Homo sapiens: one gene and its partners. The protein of the gene in region 1 purifies or fractionates together with the protein of each later gene. This does not show direct contact. Each region holds a gene or a part of one and is shown on either strand. Other genes may lie near its edges.

Evidence for each region.
Region 2: the proteins of NHSL3 (region 1) and GNL2 purify together in Homo sapiens (affinity purification with mass spectrometry; one large-scale study listed by BioGRID and IntAct). This does not show direct contact.
Region 3: the proteins of NHSL3 (region 1) and NHSL1 purify together in Homo sapiens (affinity purification with mass spectrometry; one large-scale study listed by BioGRID and IntAct). This does not show direct contact.
Region 4: the proteins of NHSL3 (region 1) and MAK16 purify together in Homo sapiens (affinity purification with mass spectrometry; one large-scale study listed by BioGRID and IntAct). This does not show direct contact.
Region 5: the proteins of NHSL3 (region 1) and PUM3 purify together in Homo sapiens (affinity purification with mass spectrometry; one large-scale study listed by BioGRID and IntAct). This does not show direct contact.
Region 6: the proteins of NHSL3 (region 1) and SYNGAP1 purify together in Homo sapiens (co-immunoprecipitation; one large-scale study listed by IntAct). This does not show direct contact.
Region 7: the proteins of NHSL3 (region 1) and EVL purify together in Homo sapiens (affinity purification with mass spectrometry; one large-scale study listed by BioGRID and IntAct). This does not show direct contact.

Annotation. Positions count from the first base shown.
Region 1 is NC_000001.11:32,748,123-32,752,416, reverse strand, and holds part of NHSL3 (NHS-like protein 3), read right to left. Parts: intron 1-4,294. UniProt on the Homo sapiens protein: Able to directly activate the TNF-NFkappaB signaling pathway.
Region 2 is NC_000001.11:37,571,633-37,575,926, forward strand, and holds part of GNL2 (nucleolar GTP-binding protein 2), read right to left. Parts: intron 4,068-4,294; coding exon 3,963-4,067; intron 3,192-3,962; coding exon 3,033-3,191; intron 2,825-3,032; coding exon 2,711-2,824; intron 1-2,710. UniProt on the Homo sapiens protein: GTPase that associates with pre-60S ribosomal subunits in the nucleolus and is required for their nuclear export and maturation.
Region 3 is NC_000006.12:138,443,778-138,448,071, forward strand, and holds part of NHSL1 (NHS-like protein 1), read right to left. Parts: intron 3,417-4,294; coding exon 3,224-3,416; intron 1-3,223.
Region 4 is NC_000008.11:33,494,388-33,498,471, reverse strand, and holds part of MAK16 (protein MAK16 homolog), read right to left. Parts: intron 2,931-4,084; coding exon 2,856-2,930; intron 1,848-2,855; coding exon 1,731-1,847; intron 1,241-1,730; coding exon 1,175-1,240; intron 41-1,174; coding exon 1-40.
Region 5 is NC_000009.12:2,819,658-2,823,951, forward strand, and holds part of PUM3 (pumilio homolog 3), read right to left. Parts: intron 4,178-4,294; coding exon 4,124-4,177; intron 442-4,123; coding exon 361-441; intron 1-360. UniProt on the Homo sapiens protein: Inhibits the poly(ADP-ribosyl)ation activity of PARP1 and the degradation of PARP1 by CASP3 following genotoxic stress. Binds to double-stranded RNA or DNA without sequence specificity. Involved in development of the eye and of primordial germ cells.
Region 6 is NC_000006.12:33,444,065-33,448,358, forward strand, and holds part of SYNGAP1 (ras/Rap GTPase-activating protein SynGAP), read left to right. Parts: intron 1-379; coding exon 380-553; intron 554-2,510; coding exon 2,511-2,722; exon of another isoform or gene 2,723-2,734; intron 2,735-3,765; coding exon of another isoform or gene 3,766-3,778; coding exon 3,779-3,869; coding exon of another isoform or gene 3,870-3,872; intron 3,873-4,294. UniProt on the Homo sapiens protein: Major constituent of the PSD essential for postsynaptic signaling. Inhibitory regulator of the Ras-cAMP pathway.
Region 7 is NC_000014.9:100,127,440-100,131,733, forward strand, and holds part of EVL (ena/VASP-like protein), read left to right. Parts: intron 1-1,079; coding exon 1,080-1,309; intron 1,310-2,123; coding exon 2,124-2,245; intron 2,246-2,892; exon of another isoform or gene 2,893-3,021; intron 3,022-3,197; exon of another isoform or gene 3,198-4,294. UniProt on the Homo sapiens protein: Ena/VASP proteins are actin-associated proteins involved in a range of processes dependent on cytoskeleton remodeling and cell polarity such as axon guidance and lamellipodial and filopodial dynamics in migrating cells.

The DNA of each region.
Region 1 (4,294 bases):
GGGCTGGAAGTCTAGAGCCCTCAGTTCTAGACCCCACATGGCTTATCCTTCCTGCCACCAGAACAAGCCCCTCCACTATACCGTGCTACCTCTTATGCCCGATGGCTCCAGCAAACCCTCTTCCCTCCCTGCAAAATGTGAGAGTCAAAGCTAAACCCAACTCTCTCTGAGGCCCTTCTCTTGCTAGAGTCTCAGGTTGACAACAGTGCAGTCCTTGAAAGGCTGGCAAGTTATTCACCCATAGAAAATATTCATTGAGCATACACTGTGTACCAAGCTGCGTGTACACTTTGCACAGAGAAAATGGTCCTAGTGTCAAAGCTGAAAAAGACCTCGGAGATCAGCTAGCCAATTCCCTGAATTTATATAGATAGGGAAACTGGGGCCCATAAAAAGAACAGTTAGTATGGGGGAGTAGAGGGAATACCCAAGGATAAAGTCTAAATTTCTTGGCATGAATTAAGTGAGGACAGGTATGTGAAGAGGCTCAAAGGATTTCTGAAGTGTGGCAGGTTCCTTGGCCTTCACAAGAAGCGTTGGAGGAGCTGCCCCTGCCCACCAGTTCAGCCTCATCTCCGACCTCATCTCTGAGATGAGAATCTTCTTCTCAGAGCTACAACCACACAAAACTGCTTGCCACCCTCCAGCACACAACTCCAGGCGTTCACACCTGCCATCCCCTCTTCCACCTTGGCCTGAAAGGTGCCTTTTCATTCTCAATGCCCTGCTCTACATGCTGCTCCTCCATGAAGTCTTCCTTGCACCCCCTCTTCCCCCAGCTCAGTGCTTCCTTAATGAAGGCCCCACAGACATTAGTGCTGCCTTCTGATATAGTACTGATCACACCCCAGGGCTCCCCTGCACCCCGTGTTCACCATCCCAGAACTTGCCTTCAGACAATAGTTTTAGTGTCTGCCTTTCCAACCAGAACAGTTTCCTGAAGAGCAGTGATTGTCTGACTCCTTTGAGTAACCCCAGGCTCAGCACATAGTAGGTGTACCTATGTGTTTAATAGAAACTGGTGGAGGTGGAGATGGTGGGGCTTGTAGATTAGCTGTAGTAGCAACGGTGACGCTTGCATACTGACGGAGGTAGTGATGATAGCGCATAAATACTTTCACTGCAAAGGCAGTGCTTGCTCCAGGATCCTGTGGGAGGAGTACTGCCCACTGCCAAGAACACAGGACAGGCTAGGCTAGGACTGGTGGGAAGAAGTAGGTGGTATGGAAGGCATATGGACCAGAACTCCAGGAACCACAAGAATGAGCTGGAATGCCTCGTGACCCTCTTAGAAAATGGTGGGGAAGGCCAGGCACGGTGGCTCATGCCTGTAATCCCAGCACTTTGGGAGGTAGAGGCGGGCAGATCACCTGAGGTCGGGAGTTCAAGACCAGCCTGACCAACACGGTGAAACCCCGTGTCTACTAAAAATACAAAATTAGCCAGGCATGGTGGCGGGCACCTGTAGTCCCGGCTACTTGGGAGGCTGAGGCAGGAGATTCGCTTGAACCTGGGAGTCAGAGGTTGCAGTGAGCTGAGATCACACCACTGCACTCCAGCCTGGGTGACACAGCGAGACTGTCTCAAAAAAATAAATAAATAAATAAAAGGGGCCGGGCGCTGTGGCTCATGCCTGTAATCCCAGCACTTTGGAAGGCTGAGGCGGGCAGATCACAAGGTCAGCAGTTTAAGACCAGCCTGGCCAACATGGTGAAACCCCGTCTCTACTAAAAATACAAAAATTTGCTGGGCATGGTGGCAGGCGCCTATAATCCCAGCTACTCGGGAGGCTGAGGCAGGAGAATCACTTGAACCCAGGAGGTGGAGGTTGCGGTGAGCAGAGATCGCACCACTGCACTCCAGCCTGGGAAACAAGAGCGAAACTCTGTCTCAAAAAATAAAAATGAAAATGGTGGGGAAGACCTCACTTGGCTAGACTTGGAGGAGGGGGTGTCCTAAGCAGACAGGAGGCCTCACTTAGTAATCTCCCTACCAGGAGCCTCCTGGGAATCACGCACTTTGCTACAAGATTCAGGGTTTAAATCCTCTGTGAGCTGAGCTGTCTCTATCGCCCCTTCCATGCCAAGCACAGAGATGGGCACCCTGTGAGTGGGCTGACAGTCTTTTAATGAATCAGCCCCTCAGGACAGTGGAGTACAAGGGCATAGAGTACAGTGGGGTATAACTAACGATGGGGGAGGCGGACAGAGATTTCACTCCTCCTAACCAAGGAAGCTGCAGGGACTTGGCTGACTTCCCCAAGTCTGCCAACGGGCTAGAGGTGGCCTTTGGGTCCGCACAAGGAAGGTGTGTGTCCCTGCTCCTCCAACCCCACCATGTTCACTGTGGCCCAAATAACATACAATGCTTCCTCTTATTCGTTTTCTTTAGCATGTGACAGGCCATGAGCAGCTGAGACAGCTTTGAGGGTCTGGAGAGAGAGGGATTTCCAAGGAGCAAGTGCTGAGGGGAGGCTCTCACTCTGCCCTCTGCTGACAAGAGAATGCAGATTTTTGGGGTCACAGGGCTTGGCCACCACAGTTCAACCCTTGCTAGGAGCCCTGCTTCAGGGACTGCAGGGAGGGTACAGTATGGGGAGAGCACACTGATTGAGAGCCCCTTTCAGGCCCAAGGGGAATTTCCAAGAGAAGGGTGAGGGAGAGAGAGCTGGAAGGAGCCCCTGAAGGTGTTGAGGGGAGGGCAGGGAAGACTCCCTTGGCCTTGCTTCCTTCTCAGCTCTTCACACCCCTAGCAGAGGCACCTCTCTGGGATGCGATTTTCCATTTGAAGTCTGAAGAAAGGAGTGAAGAAGCTGAAGGCCTGGCAGTTGTGGGCTTTTCTTCTGCCTCTGACACTAGATGGCCATGTGAACTTGAGCAAGTCACTTCCTCCTCCGGGCCTCAGCTGCCCCATCTGTATGTACCATGAGGGCTCCCTATGACATCTCGGGCCATGAGCTCTGAGAGTCTAGGATCCGGAGATGCCCATCTCTGGGGGCCCATACTGGAGCATTACCTATCATCCAAGGCCACTTAGCCAGGCCTTGTGCTGGCCAGGGCAGAGGGAAGAGTCTGTCAACCCAGTCTCTGCCCTTCGGGTATTCAAAATAGTGAGGTACAGCAATCCCTGGATCCCACGGAACCCCAGATAGCCAGCTGGTCCCAAGTCCCTAGCACGTGCTTTGCCTGAGGCCAGTGCCACAAACCCTTCAATCCCAGCTTCCTTTCATCCTTCCATTTCAGCTCAAGCGCCACCTCCCTGGGGAAGCCATCCCTGACCTCCCTCAGAGATTGCTGTGCTTCCCCTTGTCACACTTGTTAACCCTTAATTACTTGTTCAGCGTATTTTCCCCCCTATACACACACTCATCGTGAGGTTCATGAGGCCCAGGACTTTGTCTCTCTTATTCATCCCGAGGATAGTGCCTGGTATATAACACTTAGGAAATATCTGTGAAATAAGTGAGTGAGGCTCCCTCTCCCGTCTGGACCCTAGGAAAACAATGTCTATCCTCTCACAGGGGTCTGGGGGAGACAGAGCAGCCACCCTGTCACACTCTTTATTTTTTACATTTCTGGGAAGCCAAAATGTCACATTCTTATTGAGAAACCCCAAACTCCTCTGGGAAACCACTCCCCTATTGGAGGTATCCCATAGCAGAGGGAACTCCGCCCCTATTACATTGGTCCAGGCCCCAGGTAAGGACACTGAGGTGCCCTTTACCCAAGAAGAAAGTGGCTGGAAAAGCATATACTGCCCAACCCCAACTCTCTTAAGCACCTTGCTCTAGGGTCTGGGGACAATAATTTCCCCTGGGAGTATCACAGAGATGACACTGACACCAGGCCCTGAGGGCTGAATAGGAGTTCACTGGATAGCAAAGTGAAGGGGAGCACATTCCAGGCAGGAGAAGCAGCACAGGAACTGACACAGAAGGGGAAAACACATGGGAGTGTTGACTGACGGGCAAACAGACACCATCCTGACCTCAGAAGGGCAAGGCGCCCACGACCCCAGAGACTTGACTCTGACTGCTTTGGAACTATCTAGGCCCCTTCCTCAGCAGAGAGAAATGACATTGTTCATAATGGACTCTCCTTACCCACCTTCCTTTTTTTTTGAGTTTTGAATGAAACTGTTGCCCAGTTGAACTCCCGTCGCCCAGGCTGGAGTACAGTGGCGTGGTCTCAGTTCACTGCAGCCTCCGCCTCCTGGGTTCAAGTGATTCTCCTGCCTCAGCCTCCCAAGTACCTGGGACTACAGGCGCCTGCCACTACGCCTGGCTAATTTTTGT
Region 2 (4,294 bases), 4.8 Mb from region 1:
CCTCCCATCTCCTCCTTTGGTGACCCTACGGTTAAACTTCTTTCTCTGCTGCAACCTGGTGGTGTCTCAGCATATTGACTTGCTGTGTGCATTGGGCAACAAATCTATTATGGTTACAATAGTTCTTAAGAATTATCTGAACTACTTATCTACACTTACTGACTACATACGGAGGAAGGGCTGAAGACAATGCCAGTGTTTCCACACAGGGTCCCAAGACAGCAGTGATACGGACATCCAGAATGACCCTAGAATCCAGCTGCTAACTCAAAACCTCCAATGGCTTCCCACCATGACACCCTCTCCTGGCCCACGACATTCCAGCCACAGTGACCTCCTTTCAGCATCAGGACACACAGAGCATACTCCTGCCCCAGCTGCTCTGGATGTGCTGTTCCCCTTGCCTGGAACATTCTCCCTAGATACTAGCATGGCTCCTGTCTCATATTAAGGGCTCTGCTGAAGTGCCACTGCCTCAGAGGCCTTCCCCGACCACCCCAAAGTACTCCTCATCTCCCCCAAACCCCTTAGCCTGGTTTAGTTTTCCTCACAGCACGCAAGACTTCCTGACATTATATGTTTATCTGCCTACTGTCTCCCTGTGATATAAATGTCACACTTCCTGGCACAGAGCTCCTAAGACCCTTGGAATTTCCCAAGCGATGGGTATCTTTTTTATTGATTACAAGCCCCTTTCCACCACACCTGAGTTTATGCTAATGTGGTGACTCATGGTAGACCCCTAGATAGCTTCAGGATGGGGGATGCGCTGGTCACCAGAAAGACAAAGCACTTGACCACATGGTTGGTGCTTTCAGCCACTCAGAGGAGAGAAGGGAGACCAGAAATTGAGTCTATCACCAACTGCCACAGATTTCATCAGTCATGTCTATGTAATGAAACCTCCATAAAAACCCCTACATGATGGGGTTTGGAAAGCTCTGGGTTGCTGAACACATCAATGTGTGGAGAGGGCATGGAAGCTCTGTGCCTCTCCCCCATACCTTACCCTGTGCACCTCTTCCACTGGCTGTGACTGAGTTTCATCCTTTATCATAAACCGTTAATTGTAAACACAGCACTTTCCTGGGTTCTGGGAGTCCTTCTGGCAAATTATCAAACCCCAGAACCCCTGAATTTGTAGTTAGCCGGGCGTAAGTGTGGATAGCCTGAAGCTGCCATCTGAAGCAGGGGACCTAGTCCTTAACTTGTGGGGTCTGTGCTAACTCCGGGAGTTAGTGTCACAACTGAATTAAATTGTTGGGACACTCAGCTGGTATCTGAGAACTGCAGAACTGATATGGAAAAAAATTATGTATTTGGTGTCAGAAGAAACCACACACTCCCCTGCTGGAATATATGTGCAGGAGAGCAGCAGCTTGTCAGTTTCTCACCACAGCACCACCAGTACCCAGAAGAGTCTGTGGCCAACAGGAGACACTCAATATGGGATTGCTGGGTGAATGTATCAGTGAATTAATGAATGAAAGATGCAATACACATGAAGAGGGAGAGAAATTTTTGTTTGGTTGTTTGATGGTTTGGGCAGGGAGAAGGGAGAATGTCAATTAACATCAGTTTCAGGCTAACTTTCAAATGCTGCAGAATACATTCAACTGAAAATACCTAGCTGCAACTGCAACTTGGAATGGGGTCAGGTGAGAGGAAACCAGCACTGTATGGACCCAACGACACTAGCAAGCATAGATGCACAATTTGAAGCCACCATTTCAAGAGACTTGGCTGGGTTCTGAAAAAGGTCCTAGAACCAGAAAGGCAAAACGTTAACGTTGAGCCTTGTGGCGGCCCACTGCCAGGGTGAGGGAAATGGGGATAGTAGGAGAGCTTCTGGCCCCAGCCTTCAGTCTTCTTTCTCCGACTATCAGTAGTACCACTCTCCTTTCCCACTGGATCACAGGTTTTTTGAGGGCCAGGGCTGTTTTTCGTTCCTATATTCCCTGTGCCTGGCACATAGTCGATGCTAATAAATGTTTGTTAAACAAATGTTATCTTAGCAATGATTCTGTTTCGTAAGCATAAGAAAAGATACAGGTACCAGAAGATCACTTACATTTAATGAGCCCTCTTTTTCCAAGGCCCTAAAGGCTAGTATCTAAGTTTGGTCTTCTCTCATATGTCTACTTATTAGTCTCCAAATGCACCCCCTAGCAAGGCCATGGCACTGGCACTCTAGAATGAGAGAGGGTGGAGTGATCGCCATGGGCCAGCAGTGGCTCCCAACAGTGCTTCACCCTCAAAAAAATTTTTTTTTATTTTTTTGAGATGGAGTCTCCCTCTATTGCCCAGGCTAGAGTGCAGTGGCACGATCTCGGCTCACTGCAACTTGTCTCCTGGGTTCAAGCAATTCTCTTGCCTCAGCCTCCCGAGTAGCTGGGACTACAGGAGCGTGCCATCATGCTAGGTTAATTTTTGTATTTTTAGTAGAGACAGGGTTTCACCATATTGGTCAGGCTGGTCTTGAACTCCTGACCTTGTGATCCACCTACCTCGGCCTCCCAAAGTGCTGGGATTACAGGCGTGAGCCACCCATGCCCGGCCCCAAAAATATTTTTATATATTTAAAAAAATAATAAAATGAGAGACACCGCAGCTGAATGAATACACGCTCTATGAAGAGAGACAATCACAAGCTACACCAAATCTAGGTCAGGACCCATGCTCCCCAGAGGTGGGCCCACCCTGCTCTTACCTGGGGGGCCACAAGTGGCTCTGCATTGGGTGGCTTGACAAAGAAAGGAATCCGGCCCCTCTGCCAGTCATTGAGGACCATCTTACCCACAGTCTGCAAGTCGGGCTCTCCACCCTGAAAGGTCACAAAGAGATTCCCAATTAAATTCAAAGGACCAAAACCACCTACCACTTTGGGGGTATTTCAGTTGTCCCAGGGGTTCATCATCACTTAAGTGACAAGTTTCACACTGCTCATACATGCATACCAAAAAAAGGCCCATATCATATACATACATGCTTGTGACAAGTATCAGTCTAAATTCTCACAAACGCCGGGTCACCTTTAGTAACTTCCCAGTCCGGAAAGCGAGCTTCTCAAGAAAGTCCTCAGCATTCTCCCAAGAATCAATCTTGTATGTTTTGCTGATATATTCTGGCTTTGCTCGTTCAAGTACAGCACCAATGTGGTCTTCAGGACTCTTAATTTTTTCTACTTGAACCTAAATGTTAATAGGAAATCTCTCACTTACAAACTTTGTTGTGGAAGCAGTGAAGTTCCCAGTGTCCTTTGCAGCACTATTTGAAAATAGACTTCAACATCACAAAGCTCGTGGAGATTGGCAGGAGCCTGTCTCTGACGGGGCTAGACATGGTCAGCTGCAAGGAGCACTGCTGAAAGCTGACCATAGCCACGGAGCCCAGAACTCAGCTTTAATCCCCACTCACCACAAACTAACTGTGTGGCTGCCACAGTTTAAACTTGGAATGCTTCATGTTACTCACTTGCAGAAATGGTTAAAAGCCTGCCCATCCCAGGACACAAAAATAATGGAATAGTTTAAGAAAGGAGAGGAGGAATGTGTACAGGATGTATAGCCAGAAGCATGGTCAAGGTTAAGTGGAACCATTTACAGTTTTTCAGTCGTATTCAGAAACAAGTGAGGAAATGACTGGGTTCCAAAATGACTCAACCCATAAACCCACGAAGACGAATTATCGCTAAGCATAAACAGGCCCTGCTTCCCTTTGGATCCTGTGTGTAAACTACAAACTCTTTTGTGGGATGATATTGACCAGATATGCCCATGGTTCCACTAATTCCTCAAACAGCTTATGCTGAGAGGCTGCTGTTCAGCATCATGTTCCTAAAGTTTGGTCAGACAGGCTGACCCCAAACTGCCTTCTTAATAAGTAAAAAGGAAAGGTATCCAGGGTTCCCTATAGAACACTCCCCCGCAAACACAAACAGCCTATCAGGGCCAAATACTCACAACTCCTTTTAGCACAATGTCTGTCTCGGAGTCCTCAGAGGGGTAAACCACACCTGGACAGTCAATCAGGAATATCCGACGCATCAAAGTAATATACTGCCAGACCTGAAGTCAGAAAAAAGTCAGAGATGTCCTGTATCAAACACTAAGAGTCTAATTTCACAAACCCCTGATGCTCATGTATGAAGCTGGAAAGGAGGAAGGGGTGAGTCAAAGAAAAGCAACGCGCTAAGTAATTAAGCTACTAACTCTCTCATCTGTGCCGTGCACAAGATACTTCCACTAAGTGTAAACTATAGTTTCCATCAGCTAAGAGTCTAAAAACAACACAG
Region 3 (4,294 bases), on another chromosome or scaffold:
CGAGATTGCGCCACTGCATGCCAGCATGGGCGACAGAGTGAGACCTCCATATCAAAAAATAAAATAAAATAAAATAAAGTTGCATTTAGTCTCCAGTTTTGCTTCCTAGACAAAAGATAAAATCACCCAAGCTCCCAGAAAATTAAGAAACAAACCATTTGAGGATGAACACCTAAGACACACGTCATTGAAGGCACCAAATGCTTGATCTTGCATCATGACCTAAAAGTCTCTTCTACTGGATTATACATTTTTTGAGGGTACAGACTGTGATGCATGTACTTTAGCATCCCCTATGGCACTCAGCTAATGCCTGGCACAAAGCAGTTATTCAATAAATATCTGTTGAATTACTCACTGCCTTTAATTGAAAAATGGCATTCATCAGTCATGGTTACTATTTAGAAATAAACTTGAAAGTCTGTGGGCATACTCTGGCTCTGGAGGCTGCCCAATTCATGAATTGTTCATTGCTCAATTAAACTCTTTTAAATTAAAAAAAAAAAAAGAAATAAACTTGGATAGCTCAAACACCAGCACAAAGCCAGTTTGTAAAAATTATTTAAGTATGTTTATCCTCTACACTTATCTTCCAGATGGAAGAGTTGTTGTCCCACATAGCAGATGATAGAAGATATTTATATGTACATATTAAGTATTTTTTCCTCCAGTTTTAGAACATGCCGAGTGCCCACAAGACTATAACTAAAGGGATTAAATCAATTTTCAAGCCAGCAGCTCATGGTGCTAACATTCTACCTCTATGCATGGTGGGCTGCACTCTGGATTTGAAATCGCCATTTTTTTTTTTTTTTTCCTGCTGAGCCTTACTAGGAAAATCAAACTAGAGGCTCAATGCTCACCCCAGCGAACGAGCACATGACAGTTCCCTAGAGGAATTTTCTTTTTTTAATCTCAAATATCTTCTAGGACTTTAGAAATACATAATTTAAAGAGCAGGAAGCTGTATAACCTATGTCAATTCAACCACTAAAAGTGAAAATTTTAAATTTATTGCTTCTTTATGACAGATTAGAAAAACTAATTCTTTAAGAAATATGTGTGTATATGTGAACACACAGATGTAGAAAATGGATCAATAAATACGTGATTAGGTATTATATTTACTTTTGGCATTTCTGCAAAATGTTAATCACTCGATTAAAAGTAAATTACATTTTGACATAACTCATACTGCTCTTTCTTTATTGTCATTCACCTTTCCTGAGTAGCATTTTAAAGGCCTCTCTTTAAAGTCTAATTCATCTCTACTTAGTCATCAGATAGGATAGAATTAAAGCTCAGAGACATGACACTGTCTTCTGTTGTGACAGTGTAATTCATTGCAAATAATTCTTCATTCCTGAAACTCTAATTACTCTATTTTAAATCTCTTAATCTCAAGATAATGCATTTCACCTTAATTCCATTAAGGATTGTCATATTTCATTGCACAATCTTCTTATCTTATAATATTATTTCATAGGCACTTAATTATATATAATGTAATTACATTTCTGCTGCATTTAATCAATCAAATAATGTAATTCATTTTCTTATAGAAAATAAGCAGCCTTGTATTTCATTGACCAGTACACATTATACTTTGTTCTAAAACATAGTTATACTTTTAAAAATAATCTTTAAAAAATATGATCTCGGTAAATAAGAAACATATTCAGAAAGATCAATAACACTGTTTGCTGAGAAAATGGCTTAAAATGCCCTGCTATTCTTTTAAGATTTAAGTAAAATAAATGTGGAAAAATATATACTGAATTGAAAATAATTCATGCACTTATTTATTAAATTTCTATGGAATTTAAAATATGAGTTCTAAATGTAATTTCTAAATATCTGGTAAGGTTTTAAAAAAAATCTTCGGTGACTATGAAAATGCTATTAGCCCCTTACAAGCTCACCAGTGCCATGGCAAAAAGCTTTCTAAAGCTTTCTAACAGCAGTAGCCTCAGAAGCACAGCAAGGATGCTATGGGTTTCCAGAGTAAATGTTCAGGAAAACTCATTCTTTTTGGTCACCTAGTTTTTTTGTTAGCTTCTGGCCTTAAGGGCCCTGCTTTGTATGACTTGATTATCAATGACCACTATTAGTCATCTGCTTCCATCAAACATACAATTCAATTAATAGTTGAAGCTATTAACTCTTCACATGTCTATTTTGCACTTTGTGCCCTCCCCAAACCACTAACCCATGCTCCTTGTGGGCTATGGAGGTGATAAGGCAGGAAAATTTTGATTTTTTTTTTTTTTTTTTGAGGTGAAGTTTTGCTCCTTTTTGCCCAGGCTGGAGTGCAATGGTGCGATCTCTCGGCTCACTGCAACCTCTGCCTCCCGGGTTGAAGCAATTCTCCTGCCTCAGACTCCAGAGTAGCTGGGATTACACGCACGTGCCACCACGCCCTGCTAATTTTGTATTTTTAGTACAGACAGGGTTTCACCACGTTGGCCAGGCTGGTCTCAAACTCCTGACCTCAGGTGATCTGCCCGCCTCAGCCTCCCAAAGTGCTGGGATTACAGGTGTGAGCCACCACGCCCAGCCAATTTTGCTATCTTTTTAGCAGCTCTCCTAAGTTCATGAAAGATCATCTTTGAATTTTATGTACCTTGTCACCTTAATTGTCACAAATGATTACAGGCTGAGTATAATATTCCATAAGAACTTGAATTTCAGGTTTGGCAATTAATATTTGTAGTCTAGCTTAATATAACATATTCTGAAAATTTTATATTCAGAAGAAATAAGTAATGTCTCCTTTTTTCTACTTTAGGAAATTTCTAGAAAATCTATCATTAGAAACATCACAAAATAATTATTTACTTCTGTAAATATTACTTAACCCTTTAGAAGGGAAATATATACTTTTTCTTCATACCTAGGACCACATTTACAAGATGTTTCCATATAACCAAAGGCTTACTAAAAAGCAATTTAATTAAAAGAGACACTCTTAAGATGAATGGTTGGACCACTGAGTTCTTTGACACCAGTGTTTGGCGACATAGTCTTCGAACCCAACAAGCAGTAGACATTTTATATGCACACACATATGTAGTTTTAATATTCCTCTCATTAAACAAAGAGCATGAAGTTGGACCACAGCTATTCACCTTTGATGTAGCAATGAAATGCTAACAGCATAAAACAAAAAGCTGTAGTCATTCTCCCAAGTACATTCTGAACCTGTCTGGCTAGCAAAGCGTACCAGTTATGTTAATAGGCACCACGTCAGCCTGGACTGTTTGGGCTTGCTGTCGCATCTTCTCTTCTGGTGTTGGCAGTGGAAGCGACTTGGTCCAGTTCGTCTGAGTATTAAGGTCGGAGAAGTCACTTGAGGCTGGTGTTTTAGGTCTCCTGATGGAAATAAATCTTTCTTCTTCTGATGAAGACAGAGAACACTGCAGAGAAAAAAGAAGCAGCAGCCACAGTGTATAAAGAGCTGGCAGAAACATTTTAAAATATATTTCTTATTTTTAAAAAAATTGGACTGGTTTAAAAGAAGCCAAAATAATTGATCGCTTTTAGGAACAGAAGCAATGGTTTGCTCAGCCTCTTGAGTCTGACCTATAATATGCATGATTCACACCAGCCTTAGTCTGTAAACTGTGAGGACTGCAAAAGGTTCTGCTGACCCACAAAATCTTTGAAGTCCTTTCTGCTTTCCCTCTATCTACTGTGGTCAGAAAGCTCATGGAATGGCCGGCGTGGTGGCTCATGCCTGTAATCCCAGCACTTTAGGAGGCTGAGGTGGGTGGATCACTTGAGGTCAGGAGTTCAAGACCAGCTGGCCAACATGGTGAAACCCCATCTCTACTAAAAATAAAAAATTTAGTCAGGCGTGGTGGTGGGCACCTGTAATCTCAGCTACTTGGGAGGCTGAGGCAGGAGGATTGCTTGAACCCGGGAGGCAGAGGTTGCAGTGAGCCAAGATTGTGCCACTGCACTCCAGCCTAGGCAAAAGAGTGAGACTGTCTAAAAAAAAAATTTTAAAAAGAAAGTTCGTGGGTTTAGTTTAACATTAGAAGCCTAGAGAAAAACATCATGGCTGTGGCCATCAGTTTCCATTTTTATTAAAATTTAGTTTTGCTCAAAGTAATTTCTAGCCTCAATCTTATTTCCTTTAGGCTCTGACTTCAAAGGACATTTCAAAAATGATAGAGCTATTGTTGTTCAACTATTTGTGCTCTTCCAAAGCCATTTATATGGGAAAAAATCAGTGTGAAATTGTTAACTTATACGGCACTGACTAAAGCTCTGCTCTGAGCCATATCAGAAT
Region 4 (4,084 bases), on another chromosome or scaffold:
CCTGATCTTCATCACTGCTGGCATCCAGTTTATCCATATCCTATTACGGGGAGAGAAAAGATAAAGGAAGAGGGAAAACACTAGATTTCTCCAAACTCCCTTCCTTGTCCCCTCAATCTAGAACAGACTAGGGCATTGATTTGTCTATGTCTGTGTTCAGAAATTGTCCCTTTCTTTAATTTTTTTTTTTTTTTTTTTTTGAGACGGGGTCTTGCTCTGTTGCCCAAGCAGGAGTGCAGTGGCATAGTCATGGCTCACTGCAGCCTCAAACTGCTGTAGTCAACAATCCTCCCACCTCAGCTTCCTGAGTAGCTGGGACTACAGGCAACCGCCACCACATCCAGCTGAATTTTAATTTTTTTTTTTTTTTTTTTTGGAGACGGAGTCTCGCTCTGTTGCCCAGGCTGGAGTGTAGTGGTGCGCTCTCAGCTCACTGCAACCTCCATCTCCTAGGTTCAAGCGATTCTTCTGCCTCAGCCTCCCAAGTAGCAGGGATTACAGGCATGCACCACCATACCTAGCTAATTTTTGTATTTTTAGTAGACACGGGGTTTTGCTATGTTGGCCAGGCTGGTCTCGAACTCCTGACCTCATGTGATCCGCCCACCTCGGCCTCCCAAAGTGCTAGGATTATAGGCGTGAGCCACCACGCCTGGTCATGATTTTTAAAAAATTTTAGGCCAGGCCCTGTGACTCATGCCTCTAATCTTAGCACTTTGGGAGACTGAGGCAGGCGGATTACCAGAGGTCTGGAGTTCTAGACCAGCCTGGCCAACATGGTGAAACCCCGTGTCTACTAAAAATACAAAAAATTAGCCGGGTGGAGTGGCACATGCCTGTAATTCCAGCTACTTGGGAGGCTGAAGGAGGAGAATCGCTTGAACCCGGGAGGCTGAGGCTGCGATGAGCCCAGATTGCACTATGGCACTCTAGCCTGAGCTACAGAGCGAAACTTCATCTAAAAAAAAAAATTTTTTTTTTTATTAGAGATGAGGTCTCACTATGTTCTTCAGGCTGGTCTCGAACTCCTGAGCTCAAACAATCCTCCCATTTTGGCCTCCCAAAGTGCTGCAATTATAGGAGTGAACCACGGTGCCTGGCCACCTCCCTGTTTTTGTTTTTTTTTTTTTTTTGCTGCAGGCCAAAGGACAATCTTTTTACCCATAAAGCTCACCTCAAAATCACTTATGTCACTCTCATCTACCTCACCATCTTCGACAAATTCTCTTTTCCCCACATCCTATAAATAAAACATAACTGTTAGGTTCAGAATACATAATGAAGATTCAGATTAGACATCTAAGTAAGTACAAAATAACATAATGAGAACCACAGTCTTTTCACTAGGCAATGAAAATTTAGTTCTTTCTAAATTTAATGCTTCTGAATTTTAAAAATTTTAGGGCTACCAGATCATTCTTATTCTTGATTTAAATTATTAGCAATAAAACATCCTCATTATGGTTAAAAACTACATATAGACAGGAAAGGCTTTATAATTTGTCACCTTGCAGGAACAATTTTAGAAGACCAATAAATTAAGACTAAAATTGTTAATGGTTTGTTGGTTAGCCTGAAGAACAGAGCAACCAGTGCTAAACCAAAATTAATCACATGAAAGAAAAAAGAAGACATATCATTTTTGGTTAGCGGACTGAAGATGATATTCTGTTTCTCAGTTTTATACAAATGGTATCTAGTAGGTTTGGCAAAACAAAAACAAGACTTACTTCCTCATCATCATCATCATCATCTTTTTCCTCAGTATCTGAAGAGTCACTCTCTGCCTCCTGTTGTTCCAGGGCTTTGTCGAAGGCATGAATGGGGAAGTTGTAGATGTCGCCATACTGAAGAACATAAACACAGATTGGCTTTAACTACATTTGGATATTACACTTGAAGTTCCACTTTCTGTGGAGAATATTACTTTTTCCTCAGTGATTAAATCAGAATACTTAATTTGATGAGTAATATTTTTAAGTGTAGAGCCAGCAGTGTCTTAAAAAAGCATGTTCTTTTGAACATTTAAATCATCTGCAGTTAGTATCAAATAGGTAACTTCTATGGAGTTACATTTTAAAATAATTTAAAATGTAATAGTCTACAAAACCCATGCATTGGGACAAATGTCATTTTGCTGACAAGGGGAAATAATAAGGAAAAAGCATACTTTAGTCATGTTGTCTGTATAAACAACACTAATTTTTAAAAAGAGAATAAAAACTTATTTCAAAGAGCCTTAAAAGACTAGGGTAATATGCAGGAGAAGCAAAACCCCATGGCTTTTATACAGAAATCTGGAATTGTTGTCTTGGGGAATGGAGCTGAGAATAATGGCAAAAAGGGAAAGGTCTCTTATAGTGAATGGAGTATCAAGGGTAACCAAAGCATTTTATGTGCTTGCATTAATTAAAGCAAGGAAGCCAGGCCGATATGGATTTATTTTATTCCAGGGATAAAATTCGAGTGGAGATCTTCATATCATGTTAAAAAACATTTCCCAGCCAGGCACAGTGGCTCACGAGGTCAGGAGTTCAAGACCAGCCTGGCCAAGATGGTGAAACCCTGTCTCTACTAAAAATACAAAAATTAGCTGGGTGCAGTGGTGGTGCCTGTAATCCCAACTACTCAGGAGGCTGAGGCAGGAGAATTGCTTGAACTTGGGAGGCAGAGGTTGCAGTGAGCCGAGATTGCACCACTGCACTCTAACCTGGGCAACAAAGCAAGACTCCATCTCAAAAAAAAAAAAAAAAAAAAAAAAAAAAAAAAAAAAAAAAAAAAAAAAATTCCCAATATGTCTTAGCAACATACTACCACTTAAAATTTCAGTACCCCAAAGCTAATGGCTTTCTCACCGTATCTTGTTTCAGTCTCTCCAGTAATTCCTTCTCAATGGCATTGTCCAGCTGAGCAGCTATTAATGCCTTTTCCTATAAGGGGGAAAGAGCAAATCTGTTTAATTCATCAGTGCTCATTACTCATCTTATAAAAATGGAAGAAACTACCAAGTTGTTTATAAGAAAGACAATGTAATTATTTCCCCTCCTTGCTAATACTGGCTTTTGCCTTTCCAACGAGATAGATTTCTTCTTCTTTCTCTTGTAAACTTCCTTGGGAACATTTCCATTTTGAAATTCCTATGGTTTTGTAAACAACATTCTAAATTAAATTCTAACACAGGCTTTGATAGATACAAAGCATGTAAGTCTATATACATTTAAGTGTCTCAGAAATAATCTAGCAACTCTGGAGCCAGACTTTGTAAAAGCTGAGAAAAGAGAACAGAAATCTTCATTCGTTTACATTTTCTAAAATCATGCTAGATTCCATGTGACAGAATAGGTAAAAATCTCTTCCTCCAGTGATCTCTCATTGGAGATGACACATGACATCAACCTGTACTACCACACAATAGCCCAGGATGGTGCATTAATTTGATAGTGAAAGTCATAGAGGGTTTTAAAGTGTTATATCTGTAAGTTATGTTAGAATGATTACGTAAAACTGTGTAGGGGCACATGGAAAATTAGCCAGGCATGTTAGCGGGCGCCTATAGTCCCAGCTACTCGGGAGGCTGAGGCAGGAGAATGGTGTGAACCCAGGAGGCGGAACTTGCAGTGAGCCGAGATCACGCCACTGCACTCCAGCCTGGGCAACAGAGCAAGACTCCATCTTAAAAAAAAAAAGGGCTACAGCGATGTTCCATGTTGTTCTCTAGAGTGGGGTGTTTACACTTCAAGGGTATCCGCTGAAGTGTAGGAAGAAAATATTCAAAACTTCCACATATCTCTTTTTCCTTAAAAAATTTAACATCATTACTACTTTTCTTGTACACTGACATTGGTGCCTTGACTCTGTCTATAAAGTAAATAGTTGTGTGTCAGATACAGTGAGCCAGATATCTCAAGGGAGGAATACGGCAGATAGGGCTTGCAAGTGGTGGTCTCACTTGTTTATTTAGACGACTATTTAACTGTTTATGTTTGCTTAGTTAAGCGGATTCATAGATGACACTGAATATTCTGCCAAAGATAGAGAGTAGTTATAAAAGTATGCTGGTTATCTAATGGGTTAGTATTTTTAA
Region 5 (4,294 bases), on another chromosome or scaffold:
ACTAAGGAATTACTATGCTAGTTTCTGATCATATCTAAATATCACTTTGCTAATTTTCCATAGTTTAGAATCACGTATGTTCTAAAGTACCATGTTATCCTAATCCAAAATAAAAGTGTTAAATCTTAATTTGACCAGTCTTAAATATTTAAAACAGTATTAATATCAAGTTACAAGGTTAAGATTTACACAGGAATAAAACAAACCTCCAAAATAAAACATAATTAACTTAAAAGTAAGCAAAAATACTGATAGAAGGCACAGCTGCAAGTCTTTACACATGCATGGTGAAATCAAGCTTACACATCCACAACTGGTTTATCGATGTAACTTAAATTCAAGACCATCAGGATTACTTACTGATATGATTATCTGCTTCACAAGCTTAGTATCATCAATACAATCAAATGCCGCCAGTAAAACCAAATGGGAGTATTGGCCCTGCAAGAATTGGAAGCCAGCAAAGGTTAAAAACAAGTGCATAGATCTTCCCTCTTATTTCACACATGGAATATCTTCATAAAGGTAGAGCGAGACTCCGCTCAAAAAAAAAAAAAAAAAAAGATTACCTACATTGACAACTTGTCTAACATAACAAGATGAATAAAAGCCATTTTAATGAACTTCCTCTCTTATCACGACCTCATTAATTATATTCTAGAGGTAAGGTTGATTTTTTTTTAAAGCACATTATTCATTACCAAATAGTCTAAAACTAATACCTATTTACATAGGTTACTGTTAATGAATAGCTACTTGAAAATTATACTTAAAAGTTCAAGTTATAAGATTAACTTCAAAAAACCTACATATATAAACACATATATGATACTCCAATCATGAAAAAGAAAATATAAACTCATACAATTTTACACACATACACACACACACACGATATACATAATACATGTACACAGAAAATCCTGGAAGGCAAGGCATTGTAATAGTCATCTCTGGGTTATACAAATGATTTTTAATTTTCTTTTCTATATTGCTCAATTTCTTTAAAGTGATCTCACAAAATTAGAATATAAATATGAAAAAATAAACTAGAAGAGTATAATTATACACTGAATGAGAATGATATAAAAATCATTACTTTAAAAAAAGTATAGCTGCATGAGATCACAGAAATACACATGTGGCTTTCACAACACTCATCTTTTGAAATAAAATTATTTCCATGATGCTAATACTGTTCCAAACATTTAAAGAACACCTACTTTATGTTAAGAACAAAAACAAAAGAAAACAAAAACCTGTTTCCAGAGCTTGTGGCATGAGTATCCTGGATGTTGATATAATTGTTTCAAACTCTGATAGGAATTTGATTTTTGATAATAGCCCACAATCATTCAGAGCCAGATCTGATAAATATCACAGATAATACAATTTCAATTAGAAACAATAACGAAGTTGCTAACTGTAAAGTCAAAAAGACAAACTGAAGACAAACAACAAAGGTCTTACTATACAAAGACCAACAACCAACTAAAAATGGGCAAAGCCAGGTGCGGTAGCTCACGCCTGTAATCCCAGCACTTTGGAAAGCTGAGGCTGGTGGATCACGAGGTCAGGAGATCGAGACCATCCTGGCTAACAGGGTGAAACCCCATCTCTACTACTAATACAAAACATTAGCTGGGCATGGTGGTGGGCGCCTGTAGTCCCAGCTACTCAGGAGGCTGAGGCAGGAGAATGGCGTGAACCTGGGAGGCGGAGCTTGCAGTGAGCCCAGATCGCGCCACGGCACTCCAGCCTGGGCGACAGAGCAAGACTCTGTCTCAAAAAAAAAAAAAAAAAAAGAACATGAAGAGTCAGATCACACTAAAACAGAAGTACAAATGTCTTTAAATGTATGAAATAATGCTTTATGAACTAATTAAGGACAATAATTAAAACAATGAAATGCCATTTATCCTATGGGTGATGGTGAAAACCTCTGACAATAGACTAATTTATCAAAGGTTTAGGGAAAAGCAGGCACGCTTTTATGTTGATGAGAATGTAAAGTGGTTCAACTTCTTTGAAGAGCAATTGACAACACCTATACAAATTTAAAATGCAGGTATGAGCTGATCCAGTGATTCTAGTTCTAGGGATTTATCTTGCAGACGTGTTTCCATGTAAGTACAAAGACTTACATATGAATATATTCACTGGGGTACTAATTGTAATTTTAAAAACTCTAGAAACTACCAAAATGCCCAACAGTGGGGACTGGTTAAATAAATTATGGTATAGGCACACGATGAAATATTACAGTCACTAAGAAAAGTGAGGTAGACAGATGTATGTATATTGAAATAAAATGACCCATAATATGAATTAAGTGAAGGAGACAAAATATAGAACAACGTGCCTAGTACAAAATCACTGGTTTCAGTTCTCTTAACTCGGACACACATAAGCATAACCAAGCATAAAATATTTCTAGGTGAATACAACAGAAGGTGGTACAGAATTGAATGTAAGTGAGAAACAGACAAATCCACAAGTATAGTTGGAAATTTTAACATGTTTCTCTCAGCAACTGATAGAACTAGAAAATAATAAGTCAGTAAAAACACTGATGGTATGAACACTGTCAACTACTTTGATCTAATTGACAAATATAGAATACCCCACCAAACAACTCTACAATATATTATTTTCAAAATACTTAGACCATATGTTAGGCCATAAAACAGGTCTCAGTAAATTTAAAAGGAACAAAAGAATATAGAATATATCCAGAAACCCCCAATATTTGGAAATTAATAATTCCAAATAATCCATGGATCAAATCCATGGGTAACGTTAGCTTATCACCCCTTTAGAAGTAACTCTTCGAGATTTAAAAAGATATGTACTTAGTGTTAAATTACCTGACATAAACAAACTGTAGAACTAAAACAATATAATTTTATTATTTTAAAATGTTATACTCTTAATACCTTTGTGAATTTTCTATTAACATTCTAGTTTTTACTCATTTTAATGTAAGGTATTCAAATTAGAATGTCACGCAAAAAAATTTACTTAATATTGAATTATGAATTATAATTATGAATTATATTTATATTTATAACATAATAATATAATGTTATATAATATATAACATTATAATTCATATTATAATTATGAATTATGAAATATATATGAATATTGAATTATGAATTATAAAAAATATGAGAATTCCATATTTCACTTTATTATAGGAACGTTAGCTGCCTTCTGAATTCTTCTAATTTCTAGCCCAACAGAAGACAATAGTCAAGTACACAATCACACAGCATTAATTTTAACTTGTTTGATTTAGTATTTCAAACAAGTTGAAGTATTCCCCAGATGCTAGTAGTTCTCACTGGATGTTTTCAAAGGATAAAGTAGTTGATTACTACATAATTTTAGTTCATCAATAAATTAGAAATTTGTTATCCATCAAATATATAAAGTATAACTCAAAAATTAAAATTGTATTCACTACATATATTCTAGTTACAGTACACCATAGCAACAGCATGAAAAATTATTTAATAACTAAAAACATATAAACACTATTTTTGAAGCAACAAATCCCCCAGAAAAAACTTTTGTACCTATGAATTTCATTAGGAAAATTGTTACTGCATTTCTAAAGAGCTATAAAATTTAACAACTAAAAATTTCCATAACCACACTGCAAATTTATTCTTAAAAAAAAGATACATTTTAATTTCTTTTATGGTTTTGGTCATAAGGAAAACTACTATCAAGTTTCTGAAGTGCAATCTGGCATCATTTACCCAGAGACTAAAATATGTACATACTGTATCCAGGCAGTAATTCCCATATTTAATTAACATGACTGGACAAATTCACCAAAAAAGCTAGTAAATATCAGGTTTTCAAAGAATATCTAATAAAAGTAGAGAACTATCACAATACAATGTTAAATTAAAAAAGGAGAAAAGAATGCATGTGACATGATTTCCATTTTGTGTAGATAAAATATGAAAATACATGTAGATGCAAAGAAAAATATAATAAAACAATAATTTTCTGCTTGGTAATTTTCTGAATTTTTCCAAATTTTCTATAATAGACATGAATTCATCTTACTATCAAAAATAATTAGAATATGTAGTTTTATTATACTTACATTAGCCACCTTTTCAACATAAGTCTTCATTGTTTTCACAATCACTTTCCTGTCCTTAAAAAGGAAAGATTGTCTCACTGAATTTTCAGTTATGTATTAAGGGTATTTTGTAGTTAAACATTTTAATATAATATTTATTAAGTTTTCATTTGAGTGGCATATGTTTTCATT
Region 6 (4,294 bases), on another chromosome or scaffold:
TTGCCTCCTTTTGGCCATTAAACAAATGTGTATAGAGGGCCTGCTATGTGCCATGTGCTATGCCAGGCACTAAGGATACGGCACTGAACCCTCTTAGCACTCTCATTCCAGAGGGGATTAATCCATAAGTAGAATGGGGGTGACTGGAATAGGGCCAGCTGGGGGCTTGGAGGCATGAAGATCAGATCCTGAATCAGAACAACAGGAGAAATTCTCTGGCATTCAACTCACATCTCTGGCATTCAGAGGTGATAAAGGCTACAGCAGGGCAATAGGACTGGGACTGTCGTCTCCTTTGGCTGTGCTGTTGCCCTCTAAATGTACCCTGCTTTTTCCCACCTTTTCTTTCTCTGTTCGCCCTCACTGTGCCTTGTCCCAGCATTCTCAGACACCATCCACATTGAACCCCACAATGCCAGCCTCTGAGCGGACAGTGGCCTGGGTCTCCAACATGCCTCACCTGTCGGCTGACATCGAGAGTGCCCACATCGAGCGGGAAGAGTACAAGCTCAAGGAGTACTCAAAATCGATGGATGAGAGCCGGCTGGATAGGGTACGATGGGCTCTACCAGCTCCAAGCCCCAGTGTTTCCTTTTACCCACAGGGGAGATCTCTAGTCACTTCCAAGGGAAACCTCCAGGGTCAGTTATGGTGGTAAGAAAAGGCAAAGACCTGATCACCTCTTGAGAAGCCTTCCGTCCATCTGGGGAGACCAGATACACACAGTTGTTAAAAGTCACTTTCAACTCTATTTTGTAGGTTATATATATCATAGACTATCTGGGGATCATCTATTTTAGGCTTACCTCCATGTTCTTCCCCAGGAGGAACATAAGCCCTGGCTCCTGTGACTGCTTAGGAAAGGAAATGTTACTTTACTGGCAGTAGGAGCTAATAAATTGGATGGGGATGGAGGGGGTTGCAGCTATATTACAAGTGATGTCTGGCCTACCCAGTCACTGTCCCATGGGCATAAGTGACAGTCAGTGGGCAGGGAATGCATGTGGTAAAGTAGTATGTATCAGTCATGTGTGAAAAGACCATCCAGACCCTCACTTGGTGGAGGCTGAGGGCAAAGGGCACCAAGAGCTCTGGGGCTAACACAGATAACTTAGCAGAAAGTTACTTGAGGAAGCTGTTGTTCCTAGGGCCTGAGGAAGAGGGCGGCTGCAGGATTAGGTCATATATAAAGAACATATGATCCTAACACGGGGAAGTGGTCTTTGAGCATAGGAAATGTTGGGACTGACTCAGATGGGCTTGACCAGCAAATTTAATGAGAATTAAACCCTAATATTAGCCCCAAGGCAGCCACCGTAGGAAGTTAATTCACATCTCTCCTCTGCATGTAGAAGGGTTGGTGATATATGTATGTATCCTCTTCAGAGAATGAGGAAATAGTCTTTTGAATCATTTTTTTTTCTGTGCTTCAGATGAGGAAACCTTGTTGAGAAAGGCTGTAGACTAGCACTATCCAATATAACTTTCTGCAGTGATGAAATGTTCTGTAATCTGTAGTGTTCACATGTGTCTAGTTGTGATTCAGGAACTGAATTTTTAGATCTATTTAATTTTAATTTTGTAATTTTTTTGAGACAGGGTCTTGCTCTGTCACCCAGGCTGGAGTGCAGTGGTGCAAACATGGCTCGAGGCAACCTCCGCCTCCTGGGCTCAAGACATCCTCCCACCTCAGCCCCCTGAGTAGCTAGGACTACAGGGTCGTGCTACCATGCCTGGCTAGTTTTTTTTCTTTTCTTTTTTTTTTTTTTTTTTTTTTGTAGAGACGGGGTTTTGCCATGTTGCCCAGGCTGGTCTAGAACTTGTGAGCTCAAGTGATCTACCTGCCTCAGCCTTCCAAAGTGCTGGGATTACAGGTGTTGAGCCACTGTGCCTGGCCTAAATTTTAAATAGCTACATGTGGGCTGGTGGCTACCATATTAGACAGCACAGCTGTAGACTCTAGAGCCAATAGGGCAGATAAAATGACTCTTCTGAGCTCTTCCAGCTCTGGAATTCCTAGATTCTCAGCCTAGAATTCACTTGTAGACCTCCTATCCTTGGCACCTTGACAGAGCCAAGGAGAGGGTCACATGGAGGACAGCACCTGCCTTTCCCCCGTCAATTGCCTTTTCTTCCTATGTCTCCAGCATGTGTTCTGGGGCCTGGCTTAGGGCTGAAGAGTCACCCTATTTTTAATTTCTGAGCACAGTTACTCAAGGTGTGTTTGTGAGTGTAGGTTTCTGTGTGGGTCTTCATGAGGGGCCATACATAGACCTCAGGGTGTGGGAGTCTGTGACCTTGCTCCATTTTGAGGGAACCTCAGCACCATGGCAGGGTCTTCTCAAAAGCAGGTGTGTGGATATGATCCACAGGCAGGGAAGGGGTTGGGGAAGGCAGCTGGATGTCCCTCAACATGCAGTGGCTGTGCTTGGCAGACAGGGATGGAGGCTGGGTGGTGGGCTTGGGGTGGGGCGCCCCTCATAGTGCGGGGTCGTGTGCCCGGCGGGCAGGTGAAGGAGTACGAGGAGGAGATTCACTCACTGAAAGAGCGGCTGCACATGTCCAACCGGAAGCTGGAAGAGTATGAGCGGAGGCTGCTGTCCCAGGAAGAACAAACCAGCAAAATCCTGATGCAGTATCAGGCCCGACTGGAGCAGAGTGAGAAGAGGCTAAGGCAGCAGCAGGCAGAGAAGGATTCCCAGATCAAGAGCATCATTGGCAGGTGAGGGGCGGCCTGGGGAGGGGGTTGTGAGGGAGAGCCTGAGGCTGGAGAGAGCAAGTGGGTGAGCTACTCCGCTGACTCCCATCCCCAAACTCAGGAGCCCACCAGGAGAGCCCACCACTCTCCTCCCCAGGAAGCCACCCACTCACTCATCACCAGATGGAGAGAAACCCCAACCTGCTTAGTGCATTAAATATCTCTTTACCAAACCCTGACCTCTCTTCTGATAGAGTAGCTTCGGAAGCCCTTGGAAAATGTACCTGTTCCTGTCCAACCATCACTGCATTTGCATTTACCCTAGGCCAGAGCTCCCCACTAGTTATTCTCAACTTAACCTGTGATGTTCACTCCAAACCTAAGCAGGGCTCCCTAGCCAGAGTAGGCCCTGCCCTTCCTGGGTGGACCCTCCCTCTCTAGCCTTGGAAAGGTGTTCTGTTAGAAAGGGTCTTTTAGCCTGTGTATGTTTTCAGCTGCTCCAGCAAGTCCTGGGCTCCAAAGAGGGTATCCTCAGCAAAGAGGTCAATTATCTTCAGAGTGGTGGGGTCGGGGTGGGGGGGACCCTGGGCGCACTCCAACCAGAGCCACCTCCATTTTGATCCATTCTAAATGTATTTTATGTAAGATTTAATTAGAAGAAAAGGGCTTCTTGAAATATTTTTTGAAAACCACTGCTCTAATTGATATCCTTTATGATAAATCACCTCGAGGATCTTCACAGTGAGGTGACATGGGGGATGCAGAAGCCAGGTCCTCAGCCATGGAAGGTCTGGGGAAGGGGCACTGCTGTCCTGATTGGGACGATGGAGGCCTGGAGGTGTCTGGATGGTAGAAGTCTTTGAGGCACAGAAAGCTGCCTTAGCAGGGAGGTGTAAGGGTTCCTGGGAGGAAGGTGGAGAGCATGATCCTGAGGAACAGGGAGTCTTGCATCACGGCAATGGAGGGACTCTGATTCTAAGGGATAAGGATGCCTGAGGTTTTTCCAGAGAGCTATGGGGTTCCATGGGCAGGCTCTGAGCCTGTGCCCGCCACTAACCCCACTGAAGCCCGTCCCTTCAGGCTGATGCTGGTGGAGGAGGAGCTGCGCCGGGACCACCCCGCCATGGCTGAGCCGCTGCCAGAACCCAAGAAGAGGCTGCTCGACGCTCAGGTGGAAATTACAATGTCATTTATCTTCTCCGTGTCCCATCCCCATCCATCCCACTGTCTTTCGTGCACTCACTACACCAGCCACCTAGCCCCATCACCATCTGTCTCTCATAGTCTGCTGTTTGTCCACTGGCTGCTCCTGGCAGCCCCCTAGTGACCCCATCTTCATCCCATCGTCTGTGCCTTTGTCACTCCTGGCAGCGTCAGCCCAACTCCTGTGCCTTCCCATCCAGTCTTCCCACTCCTCTCTGCATCTCAGGACCTTCTCTACCAGAACCTTGGTCTTTCTGCCCCTAGACCCCACCTAGTTCCAAGAACCCCTGCCCCTTCTTTGCTCACTCCTATTCAAGCCACGTTGTTCAGCTTCCTCTGCGCTCTTGGGCCAGAGGGCTAGAAGCTGCCGTTTTCTGGAATAGAGCACAGGGC
Region 7 (4,294 bases), on another chromosome or scaffold:
CAGGAACGCTCTGCTCGTGAGATGCTGGCTGACCCCATCACCCCCACCTAGCTGCTGCTGGCCTCCTGCTCCCCGGCCAGTCTGCATTTCTGATGCAGGTCTGACACTGTCATCATGTCGTCCCTTCCCCATCACTCTTGGAACAGCCTGTGCCTGCCCTCTCTCCCTCTAGTGCCTCGCAAGCACTTCCCATCCTTTTCCTCCTTCCTCACACTTGCCTCCCCCCTTCACCTAACTGAACCCCTGCTCTCCGGTCGTGTCCCAGCTCCACAGTCACTTCCGTGAGGACGTCATGGAGGACGTCCGTCTTCCATGAACTTCTGGCCAGGCTGGAGCCCCTCTTTGTATGCCAACATGGCGCCGTGTGCCTGCCCTTGGTAACACTTGTCAGCTTGCCACAGTCCTCCATCTGCGTTTACCTCTGCGATTCGTTGACTGTTCCTCATAGGCTGTGAGCACCCTGAGCAGAGAGCTTGTGGCTGGTTTTCCTCAGCACCATACCCAGCACCTAGCACAGTGCCTGGCACAAAACAGGCTTAGGCAGCACTGGCGGAAGGGGCTGGATGGATGATGCTGGAGCCCAGCACTCGGCATTGCGCCCTGACCCATGCCCCCAGTCGGCCCTGGGACCCACAGGACCTGCCACGGCCCCCAACGACCCAAGTGTCAGTCACAGTTGGATCTTGGTGACCAACTTCTGCCTAGGGGGTGCTAGGTGCTTAGAAGGAGCAGAGAAGAGAAGAGGCACAGACTGTAACCAGACAGCTTCCTCTCCCCCTGGAAAAACATGATTGGAGCAAGAGGAAATTGCCTGGGCTCAAGGAATGTTAAGCAAATAGAGGACACCTGTGGGTCCAGCCAGGCCCCGGAGTACTGAGGACACCAGAATAGGGAATAATTGTGCCAGAGCCAAGTTCATCCCGCGGAGGCTTCCTGGATGAAGCAGGCCTGGAGCTGTTTCTCATCCCTTTGGGGAGCAGCCTGCCCCTGTCCTTCCTCCGGGGAACCTGAGCTGAGAGCAGCAGGCTTGGCCCCCAGCTGGGTGCTGGAGCTGGCTGAGCCTCACTGTTGTGTTTCAGGGCCCATCCTCCCACCAGGACATCCTTCATCTGCAGCCAGCGCCCCCGTCTCATGTAGTGGGCCTCCACCGCCCCCCCCACCCCCAGTCCCACCTCCACCCACTGGGGCTACCCCACCTCCCCCACCCCCACTGCCAGCCGGAGGAGCCCAGGGGTCCAGCCACGACGAGAGCTCCATGTCAGGACTGGCCGCTGCCATAGCTGGGGCCAAGCTGAGAAGAGTCCAACGGGTAAGAGCTCCTGTGTGCGGGGTGGGAATGGGACCGAGGGGACCCTTGTGCCATCTGCAGAGCGCTTGTGTTCCTTCCCGCATCTGCGAGACACAGCAAACTGCTTCCCTGCCCAAAGCTAGCTGGCCCTTGGCCACTTGTTCTCAAACGAGAAATCACATGGGACAGCACTTTGAAATTATGAAGTTAGCCTTTGAGCCTCACGTTGACCTTCACACGTGGGGCAAGAACTATGTCCCCCTTTAGAGATGAGGAAATTGAAGCACAAAGAGCACGAGTAATTTGCTCAAGTCACACCGTTTACAAATTGCAGATTTTGGACTCAAGCCTGGGTCTCCTGAATCTATGTCCATTGCCCTTTCCACTGTAGGAAGCTGTATGCTGGCAACTAGGTCCACCCGGCTGTTTCTTCCCTAACCCTTGCTCATATGTTCTAGAACTGTGCTTGTAAGAATAGCTCTAATACAGACCTTTGGCTTACATTGTGTTTCCTTCCCACAGGATAGTCTCTTCTCCCCTCCCTCCCTCCCTCCATGTGTCATGGCTGGTCTTGGCAAAGACACTAACCATGAGTCTGCAGGCCTGGGGAGTGTCTGCGACTTGTGTGACCTGGGCTGGTCCTTGTCCCTCTCTCGATTCTGGTTTTCTCCCCTGTGGGGTTGGAGAATAATGGACCAGATGGCCCCTGAGGCCCCTTGCAGTGCTGCTGCCATAGGATTCACACGCACACAGTCCCCTGCATCCCCTCACATCGTTGCTGCTCCTGTTCTGCCATCAGCAGCAGAATCTAAAACGCGGCCTCCTTTTTCCTCAGCCAGAAGACGCATCTGGAGGCTCCAGTCCCAGTGGGACCTCAAAGTCCGATGCCAACCGGGCAAGCAGCGGGGGTGGCGGAGGAGGCCTCATGGAGGAAATGAACAAACTGCTGGCCAAGAGGTGGGTCTCTACACCTCCCGAGACTTGGTGTGCCTAGCAGGAAGCTCCTGCCCCCGCCCCCAGCGCTGCACAGAGAATCCTCTCTTGACCCCAGAATCTTTGTTCCCTGGGTTTAGCCAAGCAGGGGAAACTGTTACTTAAGTTTTCCCTTCCCAAGGGGTTAGTCTGAAGCGCAAGCCCACAGGAGTCCTCTAAACTCCAGATCCTTCATTTTAGCTCAGCAAATATTTCCTGAAGCATCTACCATGTACCAGCCCTGTCCTGAGCAGAGATAAATGTGGAGACAATTTCAGAGATAAATGCGGGAAAAAGAACAGTCCTTGCTCTTAAGATCCTAACAGAAATAAGATGTGGCCGCAGTGGTCGAGTTTGCAGAGGACACTCTGGTGAATGTGTGGTGAAGGCACCCCATTCTCCAGGGTTCTTTATGGAGGACTCAGGAGAAGGAGTTATGAAGGGTAGGAGCCCAGAGGGCATTGCCCTGAGCGACGGAGAGAGAGTAGTTCCATCTACATCCCGGCCGGGCTCTTGGGCCTGAGACCTGGCCATGTGTGTCTGCTCGCTGCAGCGGGTGTGGCTGCAGCCTGCCATTGTGGCTCTCCGCTGTTCCCCAAATGAAACCCGAGCAGATGGGGAGATCGTCCAGGTCTTTCTCAAAAGGGATGCAAAGCTTGGATTTTATTTTTAAATATGACTTGGCATCAGGAATGTGCTCACCTTGGACTACCAATATCGTGGCTCACTTAGGCACCAGAGGGCACGGGAGTAGGCCTCACCTGCCAGAACAGAGGAAGCTGCAGCGGGGGCCCTGCTCCCTTGGTAACCCCACCTCCACCCCCTGCCACTTTGTCGCCTTCTCCTGGCCCTCCCAGCTGCCTTCCAATTGGCTGACCCAAGTGAGAACTCTGTGTGCCCAGGGTCTTCACACTGCAGTCCTAGTTCCTCTCATTACCTTCCCGTGGCTCCATGAGGATGATGCGAGATGACAGAGGCCCACAGCTGCAGGCAGCTGGTGTGGCGCTTCATGGCAGGGCCACAGCCTGGGTTTCCTGCCAAGGGGCTCTTTGCTTGCATCACAGATGGCAGGGAGGGGAGGCTCCCCGTGTGTCAGGGAGCAGCAAGGTGGATCCGCAGCACGGGCGTCTCCGGAGCCTCTACTGGGCCTGGGCGTTTGTACATCGCCAAGACAGGAGGCAGGCTTCTGAGCAGTTTCCTGTGAGAGTAAGTCCAGGTGTGTGGGGCTTACAGTGGCCACACAAAGGCGAATGGCTCCGTGGGTGAGAGAGCCGGGAGGGCTCGCAGAACGATGAGGACGTCCCGTGCTGTAAGAGGGACAGTGGGCAGAGTTAAGGTAAGGCTGGGAAGGCTGACGCCCCCTGTGCCTGGAGAGCTAGGTGTGGAGGAAATGGACCAAAAGTCAGGCTGGAAGAGGGAGCCTCCTGGTGCAGGGCATCGGGTTCCACCTCAGAGCACTCAGAGGCGAGGATGGGCCACAGAGAAATAGAAATAGTTTTGGAAAAGAAAATATGAATGCTTTCCCTAAGTCCTAGACCAAGCTGAGGGGAAGCACCTTTCTGTCTGAGAACAGGAAAAGGCCAGTATTGCCAGGAGCCAGTGAGATGCCAGATGCCGGTGGGAGAGTCAAGGCCCTCCCAAGAACAAACATGCTTTGCATAGCTCAGCAGGGATCAATCAGGTGCTCTCTGAAATCCACCTCAGTGATGGCTACTGGGTGGAGCCGACGATGAAAGTGCCCTTGCCAGGTTTCTTTTCATGTAGGTTGTCTCCCGCCTCTGAGGGCATGCAGTTGAGTCTCCCAACAGTGGAGGGCAGGAGGGAAATGAACGTGGACAGAAAGCTCCTGTTCAGCAGCACTTTCACAGACACTCATCCCGCCTACACTCCCCGTGAGCAGGTGGCTTGGTCAGCGTTCTGTTTCTAGGAGATGGGACACTGGCTGCTGGGGGGTAGCTGGTGAGGTGTAAGTGATCGTGGCTAGGCCAGTTAGGAGACTCTGACAGTCCAGGAAGAGATGATAGGGGCATGCAG